Homo sapiens: one gene and its partner. The protein of the gene in region 1 interacts with the protein of each later gene in a pairwise test. Each region holds a gene or a part of one and is shown on either strand. Other genes may lie near its edges.

Evidence for each region. The genes of interacting proteins can lie anywhere in the genome.
Region 2: the proteins of PIAS4 (region 1) and SMAD1 interact in a two-hybrid assay, tested with the Homo sapiens proteins (2 studies listed by BioGRID and IntAct).

Annotation. Positions count from the first base shown.
Region 1 is NC_000019.10:4,014,226-4,017,875, forward strand, and holds part of PIAS4 (E3 SUMO-protein ligase PIAS4), read left to right. Parts: intron 1-3,650.
Region 2 is NC_000004.12:145,488,332-145,491,981, reverse strand, and holds part of SMAD1 (mothers against decapentaplegic homolog 1), read right to left. Parts: intron 1,706-3,650; exon of another isoform or gene 1-1,705. UniProt on the Homo sapiens protein: Transcriptional modulator that plays a role in various cellular processes, including embryonic development, cell differentiation, and tissue homeostasis.

The DNA of each region.
Region 1 (3,650 bases):
CAAGCACTGACTGAGCAGGAACTGTGTGTCAGGACCTCATAGCCCACAGCAGTGTGGACAGGCCCCTGGTGCCTCCCCAGCAGCCGTGGCCATTCAGGCTGCAGGTGGGCATTGAGCCCAGTCTCTGCCTCAGCCATAGCCCTGAGCTCAGGGCCAGGGAGGCCTCCGCAGCCCCAGCCCCCAGGGCAGAGAGAGTGTGCAGCCTCTGGGACTCCCAGATAGGGAGCGGAACGTCCTGGGCCTTTGCGGACCTGTGCCTTGAGGCGCTCAGATTTCACCAAGTCCTCTGTGTGCCTGGAGGTCTCTCCGTCTCTTCTTCCTGCCTCCCCTCCCCTGCCCCCACTCTTTCCTTCGCACAGTAAACATCGGAGCGCCTGCTGGGTGGGTGCGTGATGGGCACCAGGCGTGGGCACGCAGCAGGGAACAGGACCAAGGCCACGAGGTTCAGAACCCTGTGCATGCCCCCTCCCACCCTGCTGACCCAGCAACCTGCCTGGCCCCTGCTGTGGCCTGAGGGCCCTTCTCTGGCACGCTTCAGTCCATTGGGTGCCAGCTGGCCCCCGCTCCCCTGCCCAGGGAGGCAGCGTTGATGGGGGTAGGGGGAAGGGGAACTGGCTGCTTTTCCCCTCCCATCTGCAGCCCTGGGACTTAGTGAGGTTAGGCTGGAGGGGCTGTGCTTCCAGGTGAGGATGGAGGAAGTGGAGGAGGGAGGAAGGTGCTGTCGGTGGTTCCTGCGGCAGCCGAGGCTCCTCCCTCCAGCCTGAGGCTCCGCCTTCCAAGTGAGGCTCCGCCTCCACCTTTTTTCTCTTGCAGGAGGTGTCTAGCAGCAGCCTCCTGGGGAGCAGGTTGGCCCAGTGGCACCTGTCCTGGGGGACTCAGGGTCTTGGCCTGAGTTCCATCGGACTGACTTTCCCAGCCTTTGCTCTCTCATGAGGGAAGCTGTTCCCCCTGCCAGGTTCTTGGGCAGAGCTGGCTGTCTCTGAAGGTTGGGCCTTGGGAAGGACCTGCATCACAGGGAGGCTGGGCTTTCCTGGGAGCGGCAGGGCAGGCTTGGTCCAGGGCGGGGGACGGGGCTGACCAGCTTCCTTCCTGCACGGGGACCAGTAGCTCCGTCCCACAATACATCGCTGTGCCCTGAGCCACCAGGGACCCCGGTCACCTGATCTCCGGGAGAGCCTGCTCCCCTGTCTACACCAGTGTGCCTGTGCTGGCGGCTCAGAACAAAGAGGCCATCCCCACCCTGCCTCTCTCTCCCACTGGCTCTCTCTCCATCTCAGGCCGCCAGGTGAACCTCCTTTCCTGGATTCCGTGCTCTTGGGGGACTCCCTGGGGGCCACCTCGGTCCTCAGAAGTTTCCTGGAGCATAGCCCCTGGCCCCGAAGCAGTGGTCCCCATGGTTTTAGGACCTGAGATGCCATCTGTCCGCCCTGACCCTGGGCTGTGTCCCTCCCCAGGGTGCACTCTGTGGTGCTGGCCTTGCCCGGGGGCCGCCTCCGGAGGACCCAGTTCCACCGGCTTCTCCCTCACTCCCTCCTCTGGCTGTGACCCACCGTCCAGCGTGAGGCCCACCGCTCTGGTCTGTTTCCCCGGAATAGCCGCCGGCCGGCTCCAGGATGGAGACCGCGCCAGGCGGACAGGAGCCATAAATCACGCGGTGCGGAATGCTGGGCTGGGGGAGGGGGTGACAGAGCCACAGAGCAGGCTGCAGGGGCCTCAGGCTGTAGGTGATCGGCTCCAGTGGGAGGTGCCGTGTGTGGGGACGGGGCTGGCACCCAGAACAGTGCGGAGAACGGCCCAAGGTCGCACAGCGGCCTGCCTTCCCTCCTCCCGAGCCGACTGGCTCCTGCTCCTGAGCAGAGGCTCTGGCCTGGACCTCTGCAGGCTGGGAACCCTGTCCTGCCTGTCGGCAAGGAAGCCGGCGCCACCCCTTTCCAGCCTGCGCCACCTGGGGAGTCCGGCTAGGGAGCCTGACCCTCCTGTCAGGGTACTTGGGAAGAGAGGCTGTCAGGAAATGTGGGGCAGAAGGAAGGATACATGCTGGCCGGGCACAGAGCTGCTCCTCCAGGGTCTTGGCCCGCAGCGGGCACCCCGAGGAATCTGCCTGCCCACCCGCCTGCTGTGCAGAGTGGAGCCCCTGTCACCACGACTCCAGATGCCCCCAGAGGCAGATAGCCCTGGTACCAGCCAAGAGCCGCCGGTCTGGCATGTGCTGTGCTGTGTGTAGGCACCTGTGCCCTTCAGCCTCTGAAGCCCTTGGGCCAGCATTGCCCAGGCCACAGCAAGGTAGCGTGGTCCCTGCTCAGGTGCAGCACAGAAGTGCCAGGTGATAAGTCTCATGGCACACGGAGGGCTTTCAGGGGCAGCTGTCAGTAGCAGGAGCCATTTACTCTACATTTGTGAGGAGGTAGCAGTCAGGAAGGCCTCCTGGAGGCAGCAGCGTTTCAGTCCAGACCCGAGGGTGACTCTCAAGAAGCCAGGCAGAGAGGAGGGGGCAGGGGAGCGTATTCCAGGCAGAGGGCAGTGAGGGCAGAGGCCGATGGCCAGAGAGGGCTCATTCATGGGGCTGAATGGAGTTCATTGTGGCCAGAACATGGTGCGCCCAGGAGGAGGGACGCAGTAGCCTGGGCGCGGGCGGCAGAGGCTGGAACCCGAGAATGGTGGGCCCGGGGAAGGCTGGGGGCTACCCTGCTTGCCCCGAGGGCTTCAGCGCCCCTGAGGTTCTGGTATGATTTTTGGGGTCAGTGAGGAAACTGAAGTGCAGGAGGCAAGTGGCCGTCTGCCTTCCACAGCCAGGCCTGCTGCCCGCCCAGGCCCACCATCTGTCCGTCTGCACACTGGGGGCCTGGATGGGCACGGAGCGTCCTGTGTCACTGTCCCACATGTGGGGTAGTCTGACCCACTCAGCCCGCTGGCACTTCCCATACCTGTGGTTGGGGAACAGGGGGACTCCGCCAGCTCTGCCCCAGGTCTTGGCCTTCAGGTTGAAGAGGAGGGATGGGCCCACTGCTACCAGATGGGGGGCTGCCAGCAGCCACCCCCATGTCCCGCTAGTCCTTCTCCCATCCCCTGTGGCCCCCTGCCCTGCCCAGCCCAGCTCCCCAACCTGCCCGCTGGCTGCAGCCTCCTGCTCTGCTTCCTGCCCACTGGTCCCCCTCCCATGGCAGCCTGTGAATGTTTTCACTGATGGGTAGAGTGGTCGGCATCACCCCTGTGCCTAGCCAGGGGCACCTGTTCCCCGCCCCTCCAGGACAGTGCCCCCTGTGTCCCTCATACCTGACTGTGCTGCCTCTACTCTTGATCTGGGGGACCTGGGTTGGGGAATCAGTGCTGGTAGCTCTTAGCTGGACAGGGTGGGTCCGGGAGTTAGAGAACTTGTATGTGCCGGGGAGGGGACAGCCTGGGGAGGGGGCCAGCACATGGGCCAGCTGGAGGGGGAATGGTCCCATCCGATCAGCTTTTTTTTTTTTTTTTTTTGAGATGGAGTCTGACTGTCGCCCGTGCTGGAGTGCAGTGGCGCGATCTTGGCTTACTACAGCCTCCTGGCTTCAAGCGATTCTCCTGCCTCAGCCTCCCAAGTAACTGAGATTACAGGCACGCACCACCACACCCAGCTAATTTTATGTACTTTTAGTAGAGACGAGGTTTCACCA
Region 2 (3,650 bases), on another chromosome or scaffold:
TTTTCTCACTTTATTTAATACCTCATAAACTCGTCCATCTCAATAATCAAAACTATACTCCAAGACCATCACTGCGTCTCACATCAATGAGCAAATGCCACTATAAAATCTAATACTGCAATTCAGGTAGGAGAGAAAGGGGCCTATTTCAATATGCTCTAGGAAGCACTGGTGTCTTCAAGGTTCATCATCTACGCCAGGTGACTGAGAAACTGTGTATAACTGATAGCCCCTCACACTGCAATAAGGAAACTCCTGGACGAAAACCATGTTATGGAGGGAAGCAGGGTGCCTGCCTCTTATAACTCTACTTTGTATATATCTTGTACCTCCTTGACACTCCAGATTCTCCTAGGAGGCTGGGAAATTCGGGCTTCCTTTCCTTAAATGAGAAAAGCCCAGTCTTCCCAGACTGATACTTCCTAGTATACAAAGAATAACAAAATACAGGAAAAAGGAAGACATCATCCCCATTTCAATCAAGTCTGATCCAGGACATAACCAAAACATTGTGTGTTCATTAGTAGTTTGTACTTCTTTTTTCCTTTTTCTTGAGACAGTCTCACTCTGTTGCCCAGACTGGAGTGCAGTGACACAATCATAGCTCACTGCAGCCTTGAACTGCTGGGTTTAAGTGATCCTTTTGCCTCAGCCTCCAGAGTAGCTGGGATTACAGGCGCAGAATCTTCCCGTCAGCAGTTGGCATTTCATTTGTTTGTGAAATGCTTGTTCACGTCCACTACCAATTTTTCTATTGGGGTGGTGCTTCCTATTGATATAAGTCTTTCTTGTAAAGAACAATATCTTGTTGCAAATCTCTTTATCTGTCTTTCAGGTTTTGTTTTTGAGTATGTTTGGTCACATAATAAATGCTATCAAATCTATAAAAAGTTTCCTTTATTGTTTCTGCCTTTGGAGCCACATTTTGAAGGGCTCTGTGGCTGGCTATTAATAACCCTCCCCCCAGTGGCATAAATCAAACTCCCCTTTCCTTCTAACACTATGACAAGAATCCACTGCAGAATCTTTCTGCATTAAGCACATATTGGTTTAATGAAAAAGAAATGTTTTTAACCGTAATGAATGCTGTAATAAAAGCCACAGAAAAATTCAGAATACAATACTTATTTTTTTAAGTTCTAATTAACTTAACCTTTAAAATCATTACAGGGATTCTTCTGTTAGTTCAATTTCTATACTTTTCTTAGAAACCTTTATCTAGAATTGTTAGGGAAATGCTCTATCTACAAATTCCCAAACTTGATATTTCACTACTTCATTACCAAGATTCTCATTGCTTACTGCTTCTCAATTCATTTAGTTCATCAGGCTTCTTATAAAACAAGTAAGTGTTGGGGCTTGGTCTTACACCCAGGCAATCTGACTCTAGAGTCTTATCTCTGAACCCATTTGCTATCCCTAAGCCTACCAGGCCACAAAGTGATACCAAAAAGTAACAATTAACCTAGTCTCCTATACAGCAGCCTCACCACACTTCACCCCAGGTTTCCCCCCAATTGTTTAGAATTTGACTTCTCTATAGATTGCCTGGCACACTACCTACGGTGGTTCTTCTTCCCTTACCATGTGCTGATCTTCCTCCTCACCATCCCAGTGAAAGGACTTACCTCCAACAATACAGGAAAATCAGCAAAAGTGCACAGGAGCTCTGCCACATGCTTTCTTCTCACTCGGACCCCATTCTGTTTCTTTCTCAGACAACTCTCCCTCCTTACCACGGTCAACATTTGTCACTTGTGCTCCAGATGGCTAACTCCATCACCTCCAATTGCTCTCTGTCCACTGACTTCTTCCCCTCAACCTTCAAATATGAAGAGGTCTCATCTATCTTAAAATTCAAGTCACTTAAGGCAATATAAGACTCTCTCACTTCTTAATGTATTCAGCCTTCTCTGAAATTGCATTCACATGATTATCTGACTTCTTCTCCTTCACCCTGAACTGTACATTTTCCCCTCCAAACCTACTTCTAGAATCTCTCTTCCAGTGGCTTCCTGGTTTTCCCACTCCTCTGACCCCATGCCTTTCTTCCAGTTTCTTCTTTGGTCTATGTCAAACAGCCTCTCAGGCAGTCTACTTCAAATTAGCCTCTTCCTTCTATTAATTCCTAACCGTGGGCTCCAATGGAAGATTCAATCCACCAGTTCTTTCTCTCTTTGTGGTTGTCTCAGAATACCCAGCAGATGACTGCAGAGAGTCTAACGTAAAGCTTTCAAGTCCTCCCAAACCTTATCTCCAACCTGCCTGTAGCATACTTTGACTTAGATATCGCACCTTAAATTTAACACATCAAGTCTAATTTATCATTTGCACAATTTTTATTTCTTCTACAACCAGCTCTTCCCTATTCTTAAGTAACATCTTTATTAGTTTTCCAGCCACCAAGTTTAGAAACTTAAGGATATATCTCCGACATCTCTTTCTCATTACTTTATAGCCACATAATCACCAAGCCTTCATGGTTTTTTGTTTTATTTTATTTATTTATTTATTTTTAAATCCTTCTCTTTCCATGTCTACCTTTACCAGAGATTTATCATCTCACACATAACTCAATAGCTTTCTTACTGATCTCCTGGCACTGGGCTCTATCCCTCCAGTGCAAACTGCATGTTCAAACACTTTCAGTGACTTCCCAATGTTTCCTTATTCTGGCACTCTAAGGCCCTAAAATTCTCACTGGAAGTCAACCTTTCTGAGCATCTCCTCCACACCACCATACTAGGCTCCATGAGGAACACCCACTGAGGTCAGGCAGGGCTGCTCACTGCCTCTGGATCTGTGCTATTTGATATGATAACCACATGTGGCTACTGAAACATAAATTAATTTTTTAAAAAATGCTGTTCCATGTGTGGCTACAGCTACTGTATTAGCACAGATGTGGAACATTTCCATCACTGCAGAAATTCTATTGGACAGTGCTGCTCTACAGATACTCAACACTCATGCTTATCTCCCAGTTTTTCATGCCATTACTCTGTCTATAATGTCCCTCTTCCTTCTGCCTATGCAAACTCACATGTCCTTCCAGGCCACAGTGGTCCTGATGTGAGTTGTCTGTACAATTTACTCCTATACTACCTTGTAACGGCTCTTATAATGTTGCTGCATTTAATTTTTCATGTTTGTGTATACTCTAATTATTAAGCCTCAGAACTAATAAATATTCAGGGAATAAATGAAGCATATACTTATTACAATACTGCAGCAAAATGATCAAATAAGGGCCCATTTAATATCCCTCCTTCATTAAAAAGATACGTTTCTTTTCCATCTAAACAAACAAAAGATCTTGCATTTAGTTAACTGAATAATGGCTTAATTAATGCCTAATTATAACCGTTGAGAGAGTCTCCCCCCCACCTTTTTTCTTGAAGTGTTTGAAACTAAAAGAAAAAAAAGCTATAAAGGTCTGGAATACTTCTACTTTGCATAAGCACACCACAAAGAAACCACACACACACACACACACACACACACAAAAAGACAGGGAGAGGATAATACATGAATAGTTGGAGTAACTATACCCTAACAATCTCAGATTGTAGAGCAAAATATCCACAGTACAGCAGCCCTACAATTAAGGGGAAACTACAAATAAAGCATTAAAACTTATGTATAAAAAT